Homo sapiens: one gene and its partners. The protein of the gene in region 2 interacts with the protein of the main gene of each other region in a biochemical or structural test. Each region holds a gene or a part of one and is shown on either strand. Other genes may lie near its edges.

What was found.
Region 1: the proteins of SMARCA5 (region 2) and POLE3 form a complex in vitro, tested with the Homo sapiens proteins (2 studies listed by BioGRID).
Region 3: the proteins of SMARCA5 (region 2) and SATB1 form a complex in vitro, tested with the Homo sapiens proteins (one study listed by BioGRID).

What each region holds. Positions count from the first base shown.
Region 1 is NC_000009.12:113,408,917-113,412,663, reverse strand, and holds the start of POLE3 (DNA polymerase epsilon subunit 3), read left to right. Parts: upstream 1-1,988; 5' UTR 1,989-2,047; intron 2,048-2,255; 5' UTR 2,256-2,370; coding exon 2,371-2,436; intron 2,437-2,523; coding exon 2,524-2,609; intron 2,610-2,935; coding exon 2,936-3,054; intron 3,055-3,680; coding exon 3,681-3,747. Other genes in the region: uncharacterized protein C9orf43, read right to left, coding at 1,741-1,745. UniProt on the Homo sapiens protein: Accessory component of the DNA polymerase epsilon complex. Participates in DNA repair and in chromosomal DNA replication.
Region 2 is NC_000004.12:143,511,614-143,515,360, reverse strand, and holds the start of SMARCA5 (SWI/SNF-related matrix-associated actin-dependent regulator of chromatin subfamily A member 5), read right to left. Parts: upstream 1,660-3,747; 5' UTR 1,437-1,659; coding exon 1,260-1,436; exon of another isoform or gene 1,136-1,259; intron 917-1,135; exon of another isoform or gene 524-916; intron 1-523. UniProt on the Homo sapiens protein: ATPase that possesses intrinsic ATP-dependent nucleosome-remodeling activity.
Region 3 is NC_000003.12:18,423,493-18,427,239, reverse strand, and holds the start of SATB1 (DNA-binding protein SATB1), read left to right. Parts: upstream 1-1,900; 5' UTR 1,901-3,613; intron 3,614-3,747. UniProt on the Homo sapiens protein: Crucial silencing factor contributing to the initiation of X inactivation mediated by Xist RNA that occurs during embryogenesis and in lymphoma.

The DNA of each region.
Region 1 (3,747 bases), on a different chromosome or scaffold from region 2:
CAGGGAATCCCTAAGTAGGACTGCAGAAGCATTAAATGAGATAATGTACTTTTATTCATGGGAGGTGTTCAATAAATATTATCATCTTTTCCTTTCTAGAGGTGTTTTAGGCAATCACTAACTACCACCTTATTCCTAAGAACTTTTTAAGGACAGTGTCCATTTCTTTCTTTTATTCAACACATTTATTGATTACTAAATATGTGAGGGGACCTGCTTTGGACATGAACAGTAATAAACAAACTCCCTGTTCTAAACAGTTTCATAATTTAGATCAAAGATAAACTATCAGCCTGGGATTGCACCTGGCCTATTACTTGTTTTGTTTGGCTAGCACTTTGAATCAATTTTAAATTTGAATCAATTTTAAAATTGAAATAGCCCACAATGTCCTTTTAGGGACCAAAATACTTGACAACACTGAGCCCAATTCCAGTTGAAGAGCAACTGACTAGCGCTGAGCAGCCCTGATGGTTTCAGCCAGGTCTGTTCTATCCAAGCGGAGTTCCCCCACCAGACCTTATGGTCTCTAATTGAAACACTTTCAGTTGCCATTTATCATAGCATTTGCTCTTTTGTTTTAAAATATTTCTCTATAATCAGGCTTCTATCGAAAGCAGGAAAACTACAGGGCGACTTGGGACTGCATGCTTGACGGGAAAAAAAAGCAGCATTAATTCTCAGTGGGAGGCTGGGCGCCGTGGCTCATGCCTGTAATCTCAGCACTTTGCAAGGCCGAGGGAGAATCACTTGAGCCCTGGAGTTCGAGACCAGCCTGGGCAACATGGTGAAACCCTGTCTCTACGAAAAATACAAAAAATTAGCTGGGTGTGATGGAACGCACCTGTAGCCCCAGCTATTTGGGGCTGAGGTGGGAGGACCACCTGAGCCAGGGAGGTCGAGGCTACAGTGAGCCGAGACCGTGCCGCTGCACTCCAGCCTGGGGGACGGAGTGAGACCCTGTCAAGAAATTTTAAAAATTAAAAAATAAATAAAATCAGTGGGAGTGAGAATTTCTACGAACTTAATATAAAAATAACTTAAAAACAACTTAAAACACCATTGCGCCGGGCGCGGTGACTGGCGCCTGTAATCCCTGCACTTTGGGAGACCGAGGCGGGCGGATCACGAGGTCAGGAGATCGAGACCATCTTGGCTAACACGGTGAAACCCTGTCTCTACTAAAAATACAAAAAAATTAGCCGGGCGTGGTGGCGGGCGTCTGTAGTCCCAGCTACTAAGGAGGCTGAGGTAGGAGAATGGCGTGAACCCGGGAGGCGGAGCTTGCAGTGAGCCGAAATCGGCGCCACTGCACTCCAACCTGGGCGACAGAGTGAGACTGTCTCAAAAAAAAAAAAAAAGAAACGCCATTGCAAAACCTTGAGAATGGTTTTAACTGGAAAAAATGTATGATGAACAATTTAACTGAAAAATAAATACAATTTTAACACGGTTTGTTTTTGAAAGCGAATGTGACGTTGCATTCTTCATACAGTGAAAAGGCTGCTTCTCGCCCTTTCGTTACCTGCCCAGTCCGAATTGACTCCTGAGACCTAATCAGGCGCATCTCTATATGGCCAGCATTATCCCTGGGCTGCCTAAATAGTTCGCGTTAAACACAAACAACAACAATAAAATCTAAATAACACTCAGTCTTAGTACCATTATTACAAAAGCGTGAGGGGCGAAAAGATTAAAAATGAACATCAACTTCGGTAGAGATGGAAAAAGACTGCCCACTCCATTCCAGGAAAGAAAAAAGAAAGTGGGAGAATCTGATCACGACGGGCTGAGGTCCTGTGAGAGCAAAGCAGATTCCAAACCGCTTAGGGTTGCTAAATCAAGTGGTAAAACGTGGCCCCTTGCGGCGCGGTGAGATTAACGGACCCGGCGGGCCCAGAGCCTGCCTCGGGTCCTAAAGGGATCCGCCCCGCCGAGTCAGCCACGCCTTCGTCTCCCACGCGCTGCGCCCGGCCGCGCCGTCACCCAGCAGCGGCGCAGGGCACCATGGGAAACGGACGGAAGCTCCATTGAGCCAAATAAGTTGGTGAGAAGGTTCCCGACGCGGCGATGGCGAGAAGCAGAGAAATGGACCTGGGGAGGGGCGTGCGGGGTGCGGTAGGGTTGGATGGAAGCCTTGGCGGGCCAAAACCACTGCGGCTTCAAAATCCGGATGCGCCGGTATTTGAGGCGGAGGCGGGGCTGTGGGGGGAGGAGGGAGGCTATGGCGCTCAGAGCACTGTGGGACACTGTAGGCCACGTGGGGCGGAACGGAAACCTCGCAGGGTCAGACCGTAGCGACGCGGGAAGTCCGGACGCAGTAGCTCCCTGAAGCGGAGGCGAAGGGGAGTTTAAGCCCCAGCGGCGGCAATGGCGGAGAGGCCCGAGGACCTAAACCTGCCCAATGCCGTGATCACCAGGATCATCAAGGAGGCGGTGAGCAGCTCGGGGGGGGCGGACGAACGGGCAGGAGGGAAGCAGGTGCTGGAACGGCAGCTTTGCTCACCCCCGGTCTCCTCGCAGCTCCCGGACGGTGTCAACATCTCCAAGGAGGCCCGGAGCGCCATCTCCCGCGCCGCCAGCGTCTTCGTGCTGTACGCCACATCCTGGTGAGCGGGACAGAGGCATAAGGGAGGCGCGGGGATACCTGGCTGGGAGTTGCTGGCTGGGAGCCTACAAACCCCAACGATTGTGTTCTCCCTCGGTGGGGACATGTTCACAGTCCTCTGCCAGTTTTTACAAGTTCTGAAGCAAAATAACACAACAAAATCACTTTGCTTTAGCTTTTTTGTGCAGAGAAGGGAAGGACTTATCCCTGTCACACCAAAATCCATACATGTAAGAGGCAGGCTTTCCCGTTCCACCTCTGGGTGCTCCTTTTCCCACTCACGCCTTACAAACAAGAGGGAGTCTGACAGCCTTTCTCTTCTCTCAGTGCTAACAACTTTGCAATGAAAGGAAAGCGGAAGACGCTGAATGCCAGTGATGTGCTCTCAGCCATGGAAGAGATGGAGTTCCAGCGGTTCGTTACCCCATTGAAAGAAGCTCTGGAAGGTAACGAGCCTCTTGTCTTCTAAACCACATAGAAGATGGTCATCCTGTGTGACCTGTTCACCAGGCCCTGAGCCTTCTCAGCGCGGGTCCCTTTAAGTCCAGTAAGCCAGCACTTGATGTGACTCGACCCAGTTCGGTGGGCACCACCTCAGATCTGTTTTGTAATGCTGAGCAAGTTATTTTTCCTTCTCTGCCTCCGTTTTTGTTTTTGTCTTGCTTTTCTTGTTTTTGTTTTTTTTTTTTTTTTTTTGAGACGGAGTCTTGCTCTGTCACCCAAGCTGGAGTGCAGTGATGGGATCTCAGCTCACCGCAGTCTCCTCCTCCTGGGTTCAAGCAATTCTCCTGCCTCAGCCTCCCGAGTAGCTGGGACTACAGGCGCACGCCACCACGTGCGGCTCATTTTTTATTTTTGTAGAGACGGGGTTTCACCATATTGGCCAGGCTGGTCTTGAACTCCTGACCTCAGGTGATCCGCCCGTCTCAGCCTCCCAAAGTGCTGGGATTACAGGCGTGAGCCACCGCGCCCATCTGCCTCCGTTTTTCCAATTGTACAATGTAATTAGCTCCTGCAGTCCGTCTGGCTCACTTTCAGCTCTGTCTCCTAACCCCTTGTTCCGTCCTTACAGCATATAGGCGGGAGCAGAAAGGCAAGAAGGAGGCCTCAGAGCAAAAGAAGAAGGACAAAGACAAAAA
Region 2 (3,747 bases):
AAGTAATCTTATCTTAATCACTCAAAACTACAGGAACTATCAGGAGTTCCTATGTCACTAAACCTACCCTCACCACTAAAAGTTCTTTAAATGATTACTAACATTAATGTTACTTAACCCCAGCTACCCAAATATAACTACTGTGCCAAAAGCCTCAATGGTAAATTACGCTACCATTTTCTTACTGTATAATGATTCTGCATCAAGACTCATCTTCGGAGCAGTATTACTTTCATTCTGTCTAAGGATAGGAAAATCCCAGAAATCTTTGGGCTCCGACTCACAAAATATCTCAAAACAGGTCGAAGGCCAAGAAAATAAAAATTGGAAGGAGCAATTACTTTGTTCCCAGATGCAAAGCCTGGAAGCATATCCAATTTACCCGCCTGGCAGCTTCCCCCATCTTTCCAGCCCCCTCAGTACTGTCAGCATCCCCTGCCCAACCCAAACCCATAAGTCTCGGCAGCGAGTGGTACTAATTTTTTTTTTTCTTAAGGCCAGAGGCCAAAAAGAGAAAAGTGCCGGACTGAGAGCCAACCAACTGCGCCTGGTTCTCTAATTCATTCCTACACTTATTCATCCCCCCTAAATTAGACGGGGGATCCGAGACAGCTGCTGCTGCCTTGGTTGCTTCCCTTCCAGTGGAATAGTGCCTGGGAGGGGCCTTCTCTCCCTTCACAGAAGCAGCTGCGCCCCGCTTATCCCCACTGCGCACTCGGCCATCCAGCTCTCGCCATTGTTTCTGCCCACAACAGATACCGCCCCTGCAAGGACCGGGAAGAAGAAAAGGAGGCCCAAGTCCTCGGACGCGCTGCTTTTAAATGCCTCCTTCACCCCGCCCGTGCATCCCGCTCCTAAGGGGTCATCTCCTCGCCCTTCCCCGAAGTTTGGTGGAAACTAAAAACCACATTCAGAGGTAGGAGAGGGAATTATGGGAGTCTAGTGGGAAAAAAACGATGGGTCCCCCGGGCCACGGTAACCAAGAACATCTGTTCACTGAGAGCGTTCAAATATTTGTCAGGATTCACGAAAGAGACAAATAATTTAAATGTGAGGAGCCAGAAATCCATTTTGCTTAGCTCGAATAGGGTAAGAACAAGGGAGCAAGAGTGAGAGCATCATTTCGTATCCACAGGGTGTGAAGCTGAGTCTGGTGCAGAGAGAGAAACCCGGCTCTGCGTCCGATCGCCACGATCCGGCGAGGGAGCCAGCTCCTCCTCCCCGCTGCACCCGCTCCCCATGCCGCAAGTCGCCCTCACCTCCATCTCGGCGTCTGCGGGACCAGCGCTGGCCGCAGACGCAACCGCCTGCGCCGCGACGCCTTCGGGGCCGCCTTTGTTGCTGCTGTTGCTCCCGCCGCTGGCGATCGAGGCTGCGGGCTTGGAAGGCGCGCTCTCGGGAGGCGGGGGTGGCGGAGGCTCGGCCGCGGACGACATGATGTTCCGTCTGCGTCACCCGCTGCTGCCAGAGGCCCGAGTCCGGCGGGGATGGACGGGGAGGCCTAGGCCTGGATGCTACGTCGCAATAAACTGGTGGAGGAGCGAGACTCCCACCCGAGCGCTCCCCTGCGCCGCGCCTCCGCGACGGGCCTGAGCCGGGCCCAGGAGCTGCACACTCCCAAACGTTCTGCTCTTCCGCGGGGCTCTAGGTTCCACCGGCGCTTACCTCACGGCGGGAATCACGTCGACGAGGGTGGGCGGGGCCAGACGGGTCACTGAGGTCAAGGAAGGCCGGCTGATTTAGAGAAGGGCGGAGGGTTGGGGGAAGGGAAAAGGAAAACGAAAGAGAGACTGAGGCTGGGAAAACGCTTCGCCGCCTCCTCCTCTTCCTCTGGAAGATAACATCTATCTCGCCAGCATCCAGGACGACGACCTACGCCACCGACTTTCAACACTCGCGAGATTCCTTATTGGCTCACTGACTGGGTCCTGAGCGCGCATGCGCATACTGCCCTCCTCACCCTTGGCCCGCCCTCTTCCAGATCTCTAGCCGGCTCGGGAGAGAAGAGTGGGCGGGACCTCCAGGGAGCGCTCGGAGGTGTAGGTTTGTGCGCCTGCTGCTTGGCAGGACGCGAGCTCAGTGTTTTAGGCTTTCGTAACGGCTCACGGTTCTCGCTGTGTCTTCTGTGCCTGACAGGGGTTGGCGGCACTACCGGAAAACTTGTCTGGGTTTTGCGCTGCCCATTCAAACTTGGAAGTCTTGTGTCTGGCCCCAAAACTTCTGCCGTATCCGCTTAGAGGCGTGACGCCACAGCCTTGACGACGTTATGGTTACCCCAAGTGAAGTCTCACGGTTTTTTGTTGTTAGAAAAAAAAAAAAAGTCCGTTAGTGTGATTTTTTTCTTTTTTCTTTTTTTTTTTTTTTGCCTTCTCATGTTAGCTGCGTCGGTTATTTCTAAATACCCTCCTTAGGCACAGAGTTAAATGATATTTCTTCTGAATTTATATGCCAAAGTTAAGCAAATAACGTGCACACTACCATGGAAGTGAGAAACACGAATAATCAATATATGGGGAAGATAGGTGGTGCGATGTAATCTTTTCCCCAAGCATCAAACATGAAAATTAAAACGTACATTCTCCTTAAGTGTTAACAAATATTCAGCACTGATTTTGTATACTGCCTTAGGCAGCCTTCAATGCAGCTTAAGGGCCTTGTGCATTCATCGCCTACAAAATTTAAATACATTGTAGTCTGTTTGATAACGAATCTGCATACTACAGTAGATTACCTGCCCAGTACAGGGTCTTTTTTATCTTTTTTTATTCCTCATATTCAGTATTCTCTAAATGTTTGTTGAGTAAAGGAGACACATTTTTCGAGAGTTGAGGTTTGAGCTAACTGGTTATGTTGAATTCCAAACAGAAGGGATCCCCTTTGAATATATAGCCTGCAAATTTTTTAACTAATGGAATGATAATTCTTAAATGGACATCTGGAAAAATGTCCCCACTCCACTAGAAATGCTAGTTCTTAGACTATAAGGAAATGTCTAAGGATATATGCAAAGATGAATACCTACAATGATGTTCATCATAGTCTTCATATATGACTGCAAAAAGCTAACAACAGTAGGCTGAATCCAGTATTAAAAGTTAGGTGTTTAAAACTGTCATACACCCAGAAAATGAACTATTAACCTTTAACAACCATTAATGTAGAATAATGGTTGTTTTGTGTTGTTTTGTTTTCAGACAGTTTCTGTCGCCCAGGCTGCAGTGCGGTGGCATGATCTCAGCTCACTGCAATCTCCAACTCCCAGGTTCAAAGGATTCTCATGACTTAGCCTCCGGAGTAGCTGGAATTACAGGCGTGCACCACCACGCCTGGCTAATTTTTGTATTTTCAGTAGAGACAGGGTTTTGCTGTTTTGGCCAGGCTAGTCTCAAACTCCTGGTCTCAAGTGATCTGCTCGCCTAGGCCTCCTAAAGTGCTGGGGTTACAGGCGTGAGCCACCGCACCTAGCCAAAGAATGTTAATTTATAAAGTGTTAACTGAAAAATTTGGTTTAACAGTTCAAAAATGTAGATAAAAGTTGGAAGCATATTTACAAAAGTATTGAAACTGATCGTTGCTGGTTTTTTGTTTTTGTTTGTTTGTTTGTTTGTTTTTTGACAGTGGCTTGCCCTGTCTCCTAGGCTGCAGTGCAGTGTCACAGTCGTGACTCACTGCAGCCTCAGCCTCCTGGGGTCCAGCAATTCTCCCACCTCAGCCTCCCAAGTAGCTGGGACTACAGGTGCATGCCAC
Region 3 (3,747 bases), on a different chromosome or scaffold from region 2:
ATATTGGAAATTTCAAATTTAACCTACCATATTTCTATTTCTTATACTTTAGCTAACATATCTTCCTTCAGATTTCCCCACATTTTAACTTTTAAAAATTTACTATCATTTGGGCTTTTTACTAAAAATTTGCCTTAAATTTCTTTTCCTATTTTTGATGCTGTGTTTTCTGTTTATCACATGTTCATTCTTTTGCTCAAGGCTTGGGTTTGTGTGCCAAGATTCACGGTTGCCTTCCCAGATTTGGCTAACCTTTCTGGTTTGTGGGTGAAACGTGGGTGCTATTAGAGTGATATATTTTCATTTTGTTTCTCCTAAACTTACTCTCCCCTAGGAGGCCATCATTTCCTACACTTTTCTGCTTTACCTTTTGGCTTTTCTTTAGATTTGTAATGTAAACAGTGTGCCTAAGAGTGTATTGGTGGCTTTACAGAGCTTAATTTGCAAATTTCCCTTTTATCTCAGTACTTGTGCTAACTTGTTGCTTTTTTATGTGTAACAAAATGTTTATCTGACTGATTTTTCTCTTTTCCCTACCAGCAAATTCTGAAAAATAATTCTTGTTTTTTGTTAATGATTAACTGCCTTCAGGGTGCTAAAATGGTAGAACTAAAACCTAAGCGATAAATGAGGCATTTCTATTTTGGGTTACATTGTAATATTCTTTATTTTTACATGAACTATATTTAATAGATTGTCTAAATAATAGGATCATACTTATGTGGTAATGACCATTTATCTAACTGGGTAACCTACCCTAGATTACAGCAGAAGTGTTTATTGCTACAACAGATGTATTTACCAACCCAAACTTTCCTCTTTTGCCTAGCGTAAATTATTTGAAGAATGATGGCATCTTTTCCTTTATAATAACAAGTCAGGTCTCTTTCAAGTGACCCAAATTTTGTTTAACTCGGCCACGTATTTCTTCTTCCAAAGTATTCTATGGCTCAGAAGTGAGGGCGATTTGAACCAACGTCTGACTAGTACAGAACGCTCTTACTCAGTTCTTTCTAATGTTGGCTCCTCATAGTTTAAGGACCACCCTCCTTAGAGGATAAACATTCCGAGCGTTTCGAGGCTCCTGGCCTTTATTGCTGTACACGTTTCTGCACCCTCCGCGCTTCCCCGGAGAGAACTGCCTTCCGTCTGTACCCCTCCAGCCACTTCCTGATGGCTCCCTACCTCATTCCTCAGCGCCTGTCACCTGCGTACCCGCGCCCTTCTCCCACGGGGCCGGTGCGTCTCCCTGTCCCCCCACCTCGCCTGTCCCTCTGCGACGCTCCAGGCGTACTCCTTTTTGTGGCTTTTGTGGCGTGTGGGTGGTTGGTTAGTTTTCTCCCCTGGCCCTCGCCCCCTCCTCCCCGTCATTTTCCTTCCCCCCGCCCCCCGTGCCCGTCCTGCCCGTCCTGCCCCTCCTCCCTCCCACTCACACACCTGCCCCTGCCGCCCGCGCGCCGCGCGCTCCCCTCCCCGCTCCGGCGGACGCTGCCAGGGAAGCCCCCTCTCCTCCTCCCCTCTGCGCCCTCCCTGGCGCGTCTGGCGGCGGCCGGCGCTAGCCCTCGCACAGCGCCCTGTTATTCTGGGTATTGTGTGTAATAAATGTCGGGCCGCCTCACTCTAATCAAGCTCATTACAAATTCTTGCGCGCCCGGGGCCGGAAATCGTGCGCTCCCCCCATTCCCTCACTCATTCACTAGTTACTTGTCTTTCGGCTTTTTAACTCGCCGCCCCCGCCCCCTCCCCCAATCCCGGCCCTCCAGCCCGGGTTTTAATCCCCATCCCTTTTCCGCCCGCTCCGTGCACCCTGCCCCCCCACGCCGCCTTCCTCCTCGGCTCCGCACCCCCTTCCTCCTCTCCTCCCCCCTCCTCCTCCTCCGCCGCCGCCGCCGCCGCCGCCACTTTCTCGCTCGCTCCCGTTCCCCGGACGCGGCGGATGAGCCGGCCCCGCTGGGGAAGGCTCCGGGCGGCGGCGGGCGGCCGGGAGGAGGCTGCGTGCTCGGGGCTGGGGCTGCGAGCGGGGTGATTTTGTATTAAAATGAGGAGGAGGAAGAAGAGGCACCCACAGCGGCAGCGGCGGCGGCGGCGGCAGCAGCAGCAGGAGCAGCGGCGGAGAGGGCTGCAGCCCGGGCGGACGCGCGGAGCCGAGCGGGGCACGGCGGCGGCAGCGACAGCGGCCGGGATGAGTCAACTAATAATTTAATGGGGGCAGAGACGGCAGCGAGGGGTAGAGCTAGCGAGGGAGAGAGCGAGAGAAGCAGCCCCGTCCGGGGACTCGCGCTCACACTCACGCACACACACAAACACACACACACCTCTCCCTGTGCCACCCAGCAACACCCGGCCTCGTCACAACAACAACAGCCGCGGCCGCCCTCTATCCTGCCCGGGGGCCCAGCCGAAAGCCAGGGCGACTCTAGAGGACGCTGCCCGCCCCCCTCTTTCATTTCGGGAAACTCCTGATCAGTTTTGTCGGGGTTTCTGGGTTTCTTTTCCCCCAAAGTCCTAGTGCCATTGTGGTGCTCGTTGTTTACCTCGGACTCTGGACGAGTGAGAGCTTGGCGACTTTTTGGGGGGAGGGGGCGGGGAGTTTGTCGCTGCCTAGGCGGTGGAGGTGGCTGGGGGTGCCTTCTGATCTTCCTCCTCCTCCCCCTCCCCCCGAACCTCTTCTCTCCTCACTTGCTGGGACCCCAGACGCTCACAGCCCCGCGTCAATGGGCAGGGAGAGGGTCCTTGCGGCTGTTGTCAGCGAGGGCAGAATCAAAAGTGGCATTTTAGTGCCTTTCCGGGGCTTTTCTCGCGACCCCCTGCCCCCCACCCTCGCTGTCCCCCGCTAGATGCCCTCGTTGGGGGTGCGAGGCTGTGGGGAAAAGTTTAAGGTTTGTTAATATTAGTCGCGATTGTTGGCGAGGGGGGTGGGGGTGATTGGAAGGGAGGCGAGGTGGCCTTCCCAATGCGCGTTATTCGGGGTTATTGAAGAATAATATTGCAAGTGACAGCCAGAAGTAGACTTTCTGTCCTCACACCGAAGAACCCGAGTGAGCAGGAGGGAGGGAGAGACGCGAAGAGACCTTTTTTCCTTTTTGGAGACCTTGTCCGCAGTGATTTTTTTTTTTTTAAGAGAATCCTCAGTCACCACGTCGTTTCCCCAGCACCATCACAGTGTACAGCTCATAACGGGTTTTGCTTTGTTTTTACGATTTCCCCCCAACGAATCACTTGTCAGATCAATTTTATCTTCTTCCTCCTCCCTGCTTCCCACTCTCCCCTCCTCCCCATCGCAAACCCTGTTCTCTGAGGTTAGACATTTTACAAACCCCTATATGTTGGTTTTCGAATTGTGATTTTTTTTTTAAACCCCTTTCTCATGGCTACTCTTCTAGACGTTTATTTCTGCCCTTCCCCCGCTTAGGGGGGCGGGGGTAGGGGAAAGGAAAATAATACAATTTCAGGGGAAGTCGCCTTCAGGTCTGCTGCTTTTTTATTTTTTTTTTTTTAATTAAAAAAAAAAAGGACATAGAAAACATCAGTCTTGAACTTCTCTTCAAGAACCCGGGCTGCAAAGGAAATCTCCTTTGTTTTTGTTATTTATGTGCTGTCAAGTTTTGAAGTGGTGAGTTTCAGGTCGGTTTTGCTAATTTCACTCAGTAAAACTGCAGTGTTTCTGTTTCTAGATAGTACTTTGCTTCTTTGTCTCTTTAAAAGGTCACAGTGAAAGCTTGGCCTGGATCGTGCCGGCCATATGGA